Homo sapiens: one gene and its partners. The protein of the gene in region 3 interacts with the protein of the main gene of each other region in a pairwise test. Each region holds a gene or a part of one and is shown on either strand. Other genes may lie near its edges.

Region 1 (3,650 bases), on a different chromosome or scaffold from region 3:
TTTAAGAAGCAGCACAAAAGAAACAGAGTATCTCCAATGAGTTCCAGAAAGGGAACTTGACTGGCCCAGAGTCCTAGTCCTTAACAGTGGAGGGGAAAGGAAGGCATTCACATTCATCTCCTTGAATCTGCCTAACATCCCTGCAAAGTAAGCCTTCTTTCATAGAGGAAGACACTGAGGTTCAAAGAGGTTTCGCTGCTGGTGCAGAGTAAAGCCAGGACTCAAACCCAGGCCTATCAAATCCCAACACCTGAAGCCATCCAGCTCTCACGGGTGAATGACTTCAAGGAGCACTACTCACCAGGATCATCTAACTCCCTGGATCTTGACAGCATATTCTCTATGGAAATTTCTAATATAGCTTTGATTCCCCAAAGAGGTTTCATACAAAGAAAATGAGAGATTATGGTTCACCCAGTAGTTCTGTAACATTTCCTATAAAGTATCAGCAATAATAATTCAAGTAGTTATAGTAATGGGAGTAACTGCCAACATTTACTGAGCACTTACTATGACAAACACTTCTCTTTTCTATCTATAATCACTCCTTTGTGATCTTACCTAATTCCATGACTTTAAATACCATTTATACTAATGATCCCCAAATCCTTACCTTTAGCTTGGACCTTTTCCAAATGCCTACCCAATATCCCCACTTGCATGTCTATTCAGTATCTCAAACTAAACACATCTGAAACCAAACTCTTGATTCCATCCCTTAATCCTCCTCCTCCCCCTACATCTCCACATCACAGTAAATGACAGAACCATCCTTCCAGATGCTCAGGCCAAAAACCTTAGAGTCATCTTTGACTCCTCTTTCTCTCAAACTCCACATCCAACCAATCCATCAGCAAATCCCATCAGCTCTACCTTCAAAATATATTCAGATCCAATCACTTCTCACCACTGCCACCACCAAGCACTCAAAATTTACTCAACTTACTGATAATGTCATTTTAATCTTCATAATAACCCTGTGAAATTGGTGCTACTACTTCCTCCATTTTTCAGAGGCACATAAAGGTTAAGTACAAATTAACAAACTGAGATTATAGTTTACCAATCAGGTCTTTCTTTTTGAGTTTATAGAGTCAGATGCCTGGAATCTCCCCAGTATCAGATCGGGGGTAAAGATCCCACTCTTTACCCCCATCAAAGGGATCTAATTACCTTCCTGAACTTACAACGACTTGGACCCATACAAGACCAGTCCAGAGAGAGCTGGAGTAAGTATACACAAGCTTAACTGTCAAACACTGGTCTGATTGTGAGCTCCAAAGTCCCACCAAGGTCTCAATGCTGAAATTACCATTAGTTTCCAAACCGCATGCCTTAGTTTCTCTTTACTCAGTAAAGGGGTACCAGGTCCACACTTTTTAGACTTAAGAAAAGGAACTTGTTAGAAGGTCACATCATGAATCACTGGAAAGAAAATCAAGCTAAGAAATGAACCCCTCATGCACATACCTAGAAGGCAAACAACCCCTTTCTGTCCTAAAGACATTCTGTCTTTGAAAAGAAACCCATTTTCCTGAAATGGTATCACCTGGGAAAGGTCCAGAGAGGATCCAGGAGGGCCTCTGAGGATAAAGCTACCAACTTTCCACACGACTCTTTAGTGAGCTGATGGGAAAATGGGTGCAATAGGATTAGGGCAGGTTGGTTTCCACTCCTCTTCTGACCTGCACCTCCAACAAAACCAGTTTTGAAAATCAAATGAGTTGATAAATGTGAAATTCAAAGTTTCATATAAAAATAACCTTTTATTGTAAAAAAGAATACTTTGTTTTCTTTAGTGGAGTGGTAACACAGGGTAAGCTGCAAGGATAGAAAATTTTAAGACCCATCAGACAAAGAAGAAGTAAGCACTTTTCAGGGCTAAACACAGGGTATCATTTTAAAAGTCTGTATGAGCAAGATAAAATCCAGCCTATGTATTTAAAATATAGGGGTTATAGCTTAAAATCAGTGCCCCTTTTAAAAATTGTTATTTTTTCGATCACGCCACTGCATTCCAGCTCTGTCACCCAGGCTGCATGCAGTGCAGTGGCACAATCACACCTCACCACAGTCTCTACCTCCTGGGCTCAAGTGATCCTCCCACCTCAGCCTCCTGAGTAGCTGGGATTACAGGTGCACATCACCATGTCCAGCCAATTTTTTATTTTTTGTAGAGATGGGGTCTCCCTATGTTGCCCAGGCTGGTCTTGAACTCCTGGACTCAAGTAATCTCCTTGCCATGGCCTTCCAAAGTGCTGGGATTACAGGTGTGAGCCACCATGCCCAACCCCTTTTACTCAATAAGTCTGACTACATATCTTTCAAAGATCTGTATGACTTTACTGTGTACCTAGGGAAAAAAACAGAAGGAATATTCACCAAACTCTTAATGGTCACCTCTGGATGGCAGGAGCATATCAGGGCTTTCACTCTCTATATCATACTCTTCTTTGTCTGCAATTTTATAATCAGGGCGAACTAATTTTCTAGGAAGAATATTTGGGGGGGTAGAAAAACCTTTCCTCTAGTCTTACATTAACAGATGCAAGTTTCTATAAATAACATATTTCACTTTTTATCTTAATTTTGTTAATAAAATTTTCTCTTTTATGACATTTAATTTCCATTATCAGCTGGTTTCATCCTCTATAACTTGTAGGTTTTGGAAATGTTGAGTCAATGAATTCTAATGCCACTCTAGAAACACTTTCAGTTAAATTGTTCAAATATAATAGAGTACCACCTTGAGGAAATCTGAAATAGCAAGGATTGCAGAGTATGGAAGAAACTGAATCCCAGTCCCTCCCACACCCATTCCGGAATGCATATCACCATCACCCAGCATGTTACAGCATGCCTGATGTGTAAGCACTGTGTGAGGCTCTGGTCTCTGCCCTTGAGGAGCCTTCCACACAGCTTGAAAAAGAGGACACACATCCAACATCACAAGTCAGCTATTGGCTCCAGTAGCAAATACTACACATGGTACTGACAATGAGTTCAGAGGACGAAGAGAAAGGACTTTGAAATTCCTGCTTAAATAGGTCCTTTACAAGAAGAGGTAGCTCTTACTTCCATATTCCCACAGCTTAGCACAATAAGTAATTTTTTTTTAAGTTAATGAGTGCATGGGACCCACACTTGGAGACGAAAAGGTATGACATTCCAAGCTGGAAGAATGGTGGCAGCAAGAAAGGGCATGATTGGAATGTGCATGTTCAGCTATGTAAAGTGTAAAGAGAGGGATAGAAAGTTGGAAAACCCAATTTGTTGAACTCTCATCTCACAGCCAGTGAGAGACTACAGAGGACTTTGATTATGCAAAGGCGACCTATTTATGTAACTGTCTTCCTTTCTAGGTTCCCTGAGGAACCTGAGGGTGACAGCTGGGTCTTAAGGACTCTGGATCCCTACCATATCCTGGAACATGACAGGTATTCAATTAAATGTGAGGGAAAGGAAAGAAGGATTGATTAGGCTGGAAAGATTATGCTAATGCCACAATACTGAAGGTTCTAGAAAAATAAGGAACCAGAAATCAAAGTGAGAGGTGCTTTCTTTTTTTATAATTTTTTTTTAAGACAGGGTCTTGCTATGTTGCCCAGGCTGGTCTGAAACTCCTAGCCTCAAGTGATCCTCCAACCTTT
Region 2 (3,650 bases), on a different chromosome or scaffold from region 3:
ATTTTCTTCCTTACTTTACAATTTGCCTATTTCTTTTTTCTTTTTTTCCCCTGAGACGGAGTCTGGCTCTGTCGCCCAGGCTGGAGTGCAGTGGTATAGTCTCGGTTCACTGCAAGCTCCGCCTCCCGGGTTCACGCCATTCTCCTGCCTCAGCCTTCAGAGTAGCTGAGACTACAGGGGCCCGCCTTAACGCCCAGCTAATTTTTTGTATTTTTTTTTTTAGTAGAGACGGGGTTTCACAGTGTTAGCCAGGATGGTCTCGATCTCCTGACCTCGTAATCCGCCCGCCTTGGCCTCCCAATGTGCTGGGATTACAGGCATGAAAAACCACCTGCGCCCGGCCTTTTTTCTTTTTTTTAATGACAGTGTCTTGCTCTGCCGCTCAGGCTGGAGTGGGCAGTGGCACTATCTTGTCTCACTGCAACCTCCGCCTCCTGGGCTCAAGCGATTCTCCTGCCTCAGCCTCACGAGTAGCTGGGACTACAGGCACACACCACCACACCCAGCATTTTTTTTGTTTTTCCTTTTTTCGTAAAGACGGGGTTTTGCCATGTTGCCTAGGCTGGTATCGAACTTCTGAGCTCAGGTGATCCATCCACCTTGGCCTCCCAAAGGTTAGGGTTACAGGTGTGAGCTACTACACTCGGCCAGCTTTTCTATTTCTTAAGACAACTCGAATTCTGAACTGTCCTTGTTTTTCTTGTTGCCAAGATCCTTCTTGTTAGTTTAGTTTAGTTTAGTTTTGAGGCGGAGTCTCACTCTGTCGCCCAGGCTGGAGTGCAGTGGCGCGATCTCGGCTCCCTGCAAGCTCCGCCTCCCGGGTTCACGCTATTCTCCTGCCTCAGCCTCCCGAGTAGCTGGGACAACAGGCGCCCGCCACCACGCCCGGCTAATTTTTTGTATTTTTAGTAGAGACGGGGTTTCACTGTGTTAGCCAGGATGGTCTCGATCTCCTGACCTCGTGATCCGCCCGCCTCGGCCTCCCAAAGTGCTGGGATTACAGGCGTGAGCCACCGCGCCCAGCCACCTTCTTGTTAGTTTTATCCACTCACTTATTTTTCTATCCATTTCTCTAAACAAAGTTAAAGTGATAAATCATTAGTACTAATAGCATGTGAGGCTTTCTTTCAATGGCACTCTAAAAACAAGATACTATGAAACAAATATATTTTCTTTTTTCTTTTCTTTTATTTTCTTGAGATGGAGTCTCACTCTGCCGCCGAGGCTGGAGTGCAGTGGCGCGATCTCGGCTCACCGGAACCTCCACCTCCCTGGTTCAAGCAATTCTCCTGCCTCAGCCTCACAAGTAGCTGGGACTACAGGCACATGCCACCATGCCCGGCTAATTTTTTGTAGTTTTAGTAGAACAGGGTTTCACCGTGAGACACAGGATGGTCTTGATCTCCTGACCTTGTGATCCGCCCGCCTTGGCCTCCCAAAATGCTGGGATTACAGGCTTGAGCCACCGCGCCCGGCCATATTTTCAAGAAAATATGAAATCATTCCATAACATTCTGAAACAGGACAAGTTTTTTGGATTAAACTACATCACTTAATTTATGATTCTAAATGTATTTATAAGGAAAATATCTTTATAAAGCTAATATTTGTCTAAAAAATAGTATCTACCTGTCTAGCAATAATTCTTGGCATTTCTGTTAAAAAAAGTTGTCTCACTGGCTGGGCGCGGTGGCTCACACCTGTAATCCCAACACTTTGGGAGGCCAGGGCGGGCAATCATCTGAGGTCAGGAGTTCAAGACCAGCCTGGCCAACATGGTGAAACCTCATCTCTACAAAAAATGCAAAAATTAGCTGGGCGTGGTGGCATGTGCCTGTAATCCCAGCTGCTCAGGTGGCTGAGGAAGGAGAATCGCTTGAGCTCGGGAGGCGGAGGTTGCCGTGAGCCAAAATCATGCCATTGCACTCTAGCCTGGGCGACAGAGCGAGACTCCATCTCAAAAAAAAAAAAAAGTTGCTTTATCAATTAATAGAGGTATGTATAAATATGTGGACATATTAAAAATGTTACATGTAAAGAGAATGCCCATTTTTACCATGTAAATTAGATCATTCTTCTTTTTTTCTTTTTTTGAGATAGGGTCTCACGCTGCCTAGGCTAAAGTGCAGTGGTACAATCAAGGCTCACTGTAGCCTTGACCTCTTTGGCTCAGGTGATTCTCATACCTCAGCCTCCTGAGTAGCTGGGACTACAGGTGCACACCACCACGCCCAGCTAATTAAAAACAATTTTTTTTTTTTTTTTTTGGTAGAGACAGGGTTTCACCATGTTACCCAGGCTGGTCTTGAACTCCTGAGCTCAAGCAGTCCTCCCACCTCAGCCCCCGAAAGTGATGGGATTATAGGTGTGAGCCACGACAACTAGCCAATTACTCTAAACCAGCCTTTTTCAACTGGGTTCCTGATTTGAACCACAAAATAGAAAAAATTAGTGACTGTTTTCTCAATTTTCCCAAGTTTGGTACATAAATAGTACTTCCCTAGATGCCTACGATAAAAGTTAATTTAGGCTGGGTGCAGTGGCTGACGCCTGTAATCCCAGCATTTAGGAAGGCCGAGGCAGGCAGATCACTTGAGGCCAGGAGTTTGAGACCAGCCTGGGCAACATGGCGAAACACTGTCTGCCAAAAATACAAAAATTAGCCAGATGTGGTGGCACATGCTTGTAATCCCAGTTACTTGAGGGGCTGAGGCAGGAATCGCTCGAACCTGGGAGGCGAAGGTTATAGTGAGTCCAGATGGCGCCACCGCACTCCAGCCTGAGGGAGACAGCCAGACTGTCTCCTACACCTCCACCCCTAGCCAAAAAGTTAAGTTATTGCCAACAACCAACAATGGATGTCTTAAAGCAATGATCTCAGTGTTGTTCATCCAACCAGCAGCATCAGCATCCCTTGGGAAGTTTTCTCTATCCCAGAGCTACTGAATCAGAAACTCCAGGGTTTGAGTCCTAGCCGACGCCGTCGCCGCGCGCGCGAGGCCTGGAACACACCGCACGAGCCGCTCCCGCCCCTACCCCTTTACGCCCACGTGGAGCCGGCCCCGCCAGCGCGAGCGCGCCCTATACACCCTCCCGCCCTGCGCCTACATGCTGCCCTGGCTCTGCCCGTGTGTGGGGGGCGCTTCCGGCCCCGCGGGGGTGGGGAAAATAGGGGATTAAAAAAAAACAGCGCGCGGAACCGGGCCAGGGTTGCCCACCCCCGCCACAATGGCCTCTGGGGTGAAGTCCTGCGCTTCCAGCTGCCCGGCCACTAGGCCGCTACGCTACGGAACATGAACAAGCTCCGGGCAGAGGAGTGGTTCTGCGACGTGACCATTGTGGCCGACAGCCTCAAGTTTCGAGGCCACAAGGTCATCTTAGCCGCCTGCTCACCGTTCCTGCGGGACCAGTTCCTGCTTAACCCCAGCTCGGAGCTGCAGGTCTCCCTGATGCACAGTGCACGCATCGTGGCCGACCTGCTTCTCTCCTGCTACACGGGCACCCTGGAATTCGCTGTTAGGGACATCGTCAACTATCTTACAGCCACCTCCTACCTGCAGATGGAGCACGTGGTGGAGAAATGCCAGAATGCCCTCAGCCAGTTCACTGAGCCCAAAATAGGCCTCAAAGAGGATGGGGTCCGTGAGGCT
Region 3 (3,650 bases):
TTTAGAATCAGTATGTTAACAGGGGAGAAACTGGAGACCGGAAGAACATCTAAGTCAGGAGAGTGACGGTAAGAGTCTGAACTTAGGTGGTGGTGGTGATGGGGATAAAGAAGAGAAGAGAGGGCCGGGCATGGTGGCTCATGCCTGTAATCCCAGCACTTTGGGAGGCTGAGGCAGACGGATCATGAGGTCAAGAGATCAACACCATCCTGGCCAACATGGCGAAACCCCGTCTCTACTAAAAATACAAAAATTAGCCAGGCGTGGTGGTGCGCACCTGTAGTCCCAGCTACTCGGGAGGCTGAGGCAGGAGAATCGCTTGAACCCAGGAGGCGGAGGTTGCAGTGAGCCGAGATTGCACCACTGTATTCTAGCCCAGTGACAGAGCACGACTCTGTCTCAAAAAAAAAAAAAAAAAAAAAGAGAGGTCCAAAAGAGCAAGGACTCAAACAGCGGCAATGGCGCCATGCCCCTTCTTTGGGCTCCCAAAGGTCAAACCCAAAGAAGAGGTCAGTAAACAACTGGCTGGGCGCAGTGGCTCACGCCTGTAATCCTAGCACTTTGGGAGGCCGAGGTGGGTGGATCACCTGAGGTCAGGAGTTCAAGACCAGCCTGGCCAACATGGTGAAACCCCATCTCTACTAAAAATACAAAAATTAGCTGGGCATGGTGGTGGGCACCTGTAATCCTAGCTACTTGGGAGGGTGAGGCAGGAGAACTGCTTGAACCCAGGAGGTGAAGGTTGCAGTGAGCTGAGATCATGCCACTGCACTCCAGCCTAGGCGACAGAGCAAGACTCTGTCTCAAAAAAAAAAAAGAAGAAACACATAATCCTTGTCCTCAAACTAAGGTGTAGGCTTGAGCCCAATGAGTACATAGGAAAAAAAACACATAAAAACACATAAACGTATTAAGCAAATTATTAACAAGTAAAAGTCAATAATTTATGTAAGTTGTAAATATACAAAAAAGAACAAATGGTACAGATTAATCACAGAAAGCTTTCTGCAGAAAGAAGTTTTAAGAACTGGACTTTCAAGGGCAGAAGGAATCCCGAGCGACAGAGAAGAGGGTTGAGGCCTGGAATGGGATTCTGAATCAAAGCTCTTTACCTTCCAAGTGTTGGGGGGCAGGTTCCCTGTTCACAAGGCTCCAACCCCCTGATGCCTCCACTCAGTGCCACTGAAGAGATTCTCCCAGTAACCCATCTTGTTGGCTATTCTCCGACTGAGTATTCCTTCCCAGTGACAAGCTCCATCGCCCAGGGGATGAATGTGATGTCACAATCAGGAGTACTCTAGTAATAGGAACAAGGAAGAGAAAGGAGAGTCAGGAGAACTACCTCCACTTGGCAAGGAGACTGGACAGATGGATCTGGCAGTTGGTTGGGGAGGATGAGACAACTCCATTAAGCACTACAGTTTTCAGTGCTAGGCAAATAAGACTACCTTCTAAGGAGGGAGCTCACCAGCTAAGGAAGCACACACACGGGGTCCAGTAGATTTGAACATAGCTGGGAGGGGGAAAGAAAAGGACAAGAGAGGCCGGGCGTGGTGGCTCACGCCTGTAATCCCAGCTCTTAGGGAGGCCAAGGCGGGTGGATCACGAGGTCAGGAGATCAAGACCGTCCTGGCTAACACGGTGAAACCCCGTCTCTACTAAAAATACAAAAAATTAGCTGGGCGAGGTGGCAGGCGCCTGTAGTCCCAGCTACTCGGGAGGCTGAGGCAGGAGAATGGCGTGAACCTAGGAGCTGCAGCTTGCAGTGAGCCGAGACCGCGCCACCGCACTCCAGCCTGGGCGACACAGCAAGACTCCGTCTTAAAAAAAAAAAAAAAAAAGACAAGAGGAAAAGTAGAGGAGTTGTTGGAGATTTAAGATTCTTTTATTCAGTGCACATAACTACCAGTAATAATGATTCCAAATCTGTGACTACAAAATGCATAGATCCAGGTTGCGATGGCTCACGCCTGTGATCCCAGCACTTTGGGAGGCCGAGGCGGGTGGATCACCTGAGGTCAGGAGTCGGAGATGAGCCTGGCCAACATGGCGAAACCCCATCTCTACTAAAAATATAAAAATTAGCCGGGTATGGTGGCAGATGCCTGTAATCCCAGCTACTCAGGAGGCTGAGGCAGGGAGAATTGCTTGAACCCAGGAGGCGGAGGTTGCAGTGAGCCAAGATCGCGCCACTGCACTCCAGCCTAGGCGACAGAGCAAGACTCTGACTCAAAAAAAAAGCAAAATGCATAGATCCATAATACATTATGTGTACAGGATGATGCTTTAATGCAGAGGTCCCCAAATCCCCAGATGGACCAGTACCAGACTGTGGCCTATCAGGAACCGGGTCGTACAGCAGGAGGTGAGCAGGAAACAAGCGAGCATTAAGGCCTGTGCTCCATGTCCTGTCAGATCAGCAGCGGCATTTGATTCTCATTGGAGCATGAACCCTATTGTGAACTGCCCATGCGAGGGATCTAGGTTGCCCACTCCCTATGAGAATCTAATGCCTGATGATCTGAGGTGGTAGAGTTCCATCACAAAACCATCCCCTCGCCCACCATCTGTGGAAAAACTATCTTCCACAAAAAGGCTGGGGATGCTGCTTTAATGTTTCCAAAGTGCTTTCACATAAATTATTATTATTATTTCGAGATAGAGTCTCGCTCTGTCACCTAGGCTAGAGTGCAATGGCGCGATCTTGGCTCACTGAAGCCTTGGCCTCCCGAGTTCAAGTGATTCTCCTACCTCAGCCTCCAGAGTAGCTAGGATTACAGGCACCCACCACCATGCCCGGCTAATTTTTGTATTTTTAGTAGAGACGGGGTTTCACCATGTTGGCCAGGCTGGTCTCGAACTCCTGACCTCAGGTGATCCACCCGCCTCAGCCTCCCAAAATGCTGGGATTACAAGTGTGAGCCACCGCGCCTGGCCCACATAAATTATTATTATTTTTTTGAGATAGGGTCTTGCTCTATTGCCCAGGCTGGAGTACAGTGGCATGATCATAGCTCACTACAGCCTCGCCTTCCCAGCAGGCTCCAGCAATCCTCCCACCTCAGTCTCCCAAATAGCTGGGACCACAGGCACACACCACCATGCCTGGCTAATTTTTGTATTTTTGGTAGAGATGGGGTTTTGCCATGTTGCCCAGGCTGGTCTTGAACTCCTGGGCAGGCTCCAGCAATCCTCCCACCTCAGCCTCCCGAAGTGCTGGGATTACAGGCACCAGCCACTGCGCCCACCCCCAAATCTACACATTTAAACAAGTCAAGTAACCCTGCTGTAGTTTTTCTGTTGCTTCAACTGTCAAGTAGGGAAAATGATACCTGCCTTATATATTAATATAAGGTATATATAATATATACATATTTATTATATATATATATGTTATTTTTTTTTTGAGACAAAGTGTTGCTCTGTCGCCAGGCTGGAGTACAGTGGCACGATCTTGGCTCACTGCAACCTCTGCCTCCCGGGTTCAAGCGATTCTCCTGCCTCATCCTCCCAAGTAGCTGGGACTACAGGCATGTGCCACCATGCTGAGCTAATTTTTGTATTTTTAGTAGAGACGGGGTTTCACCATGTTGGCCAGGATGGTCTCAATCTCCTGACCTTGTGATCCGCCCGCCTCGGCCTCCCAAAGT

What was found.
Region 1: the proteins of RNF41 (region 3) and ENOPH1 interact in binary tests that used the Homo sapiens proteins (3 or more experiments, as listed by UniProt).
Region 2: the proteins of RNF41 (region 3) and UBE2K interact in binary tests that used the Homo sapiens proteins (3 or more experiments, as listed by UniProt).

The regions. Positions count from the first base shown.
Region 1 is NC_000004.12:82,437,014-82,440,663, reverse strand, and holds part of ENOPH1 (enolase-phosphatase E1), read right to left. Parts: intron 1-3,650. UniProt on the Homo sapiens protein: Bifunctional enzyme that catalyzes the enolization of 2,3-diketo-5-methylthiopentyl-1-phosphate (DK-MTP-1-P) into the intermediate 2-hydroxy-3-keto-5-methylthiopentenyl-1-phosphate (HK-MTPenyl-1-P), which is then dephosphorylated to form the acireductone 1,2-dihydroxy-3-keto-5-methylthiopentene (DHK-MTPene).
Region 2 is NC_000004.12:39,771,015-39,774,664, reverse strand, and holds part of UBE2K (ubiquitin-conjugating enzyme E2 K), read right to left. Parts: exon of another isoform or gene 2,966-3,650; intron 1-2,965. UniProt on the Homo sapiens protein: Accepts ubiquitin from the E1 complex and catalyzes its covalent attachment to other proteins. In vitro, in the presence or in the absence of BRCA1-BARD1 E3 ubiquitin-protein ligase complex, catalyzes the synthesis of 'Lys-48'-linked polyubiquitin chains.
Region 3 is NC_000012.12:56,215,317-56,218,966, forward strand, and holds part of RNF41 (E3 ubiquitin-protein ligase NRDP1), read right to left. Parts: intron 1,298-3,650; 5' UTR 1,113-1,297; intron 1-1,112. UniProt on the Homo sapiens protein: Acts as E3 ubiquitin-protein ligase and regulates the degradation of target proteins. Polyubiquitinates MYD88. Negatively regulates MYD88-dependent production of pro-inflammatory cytokines.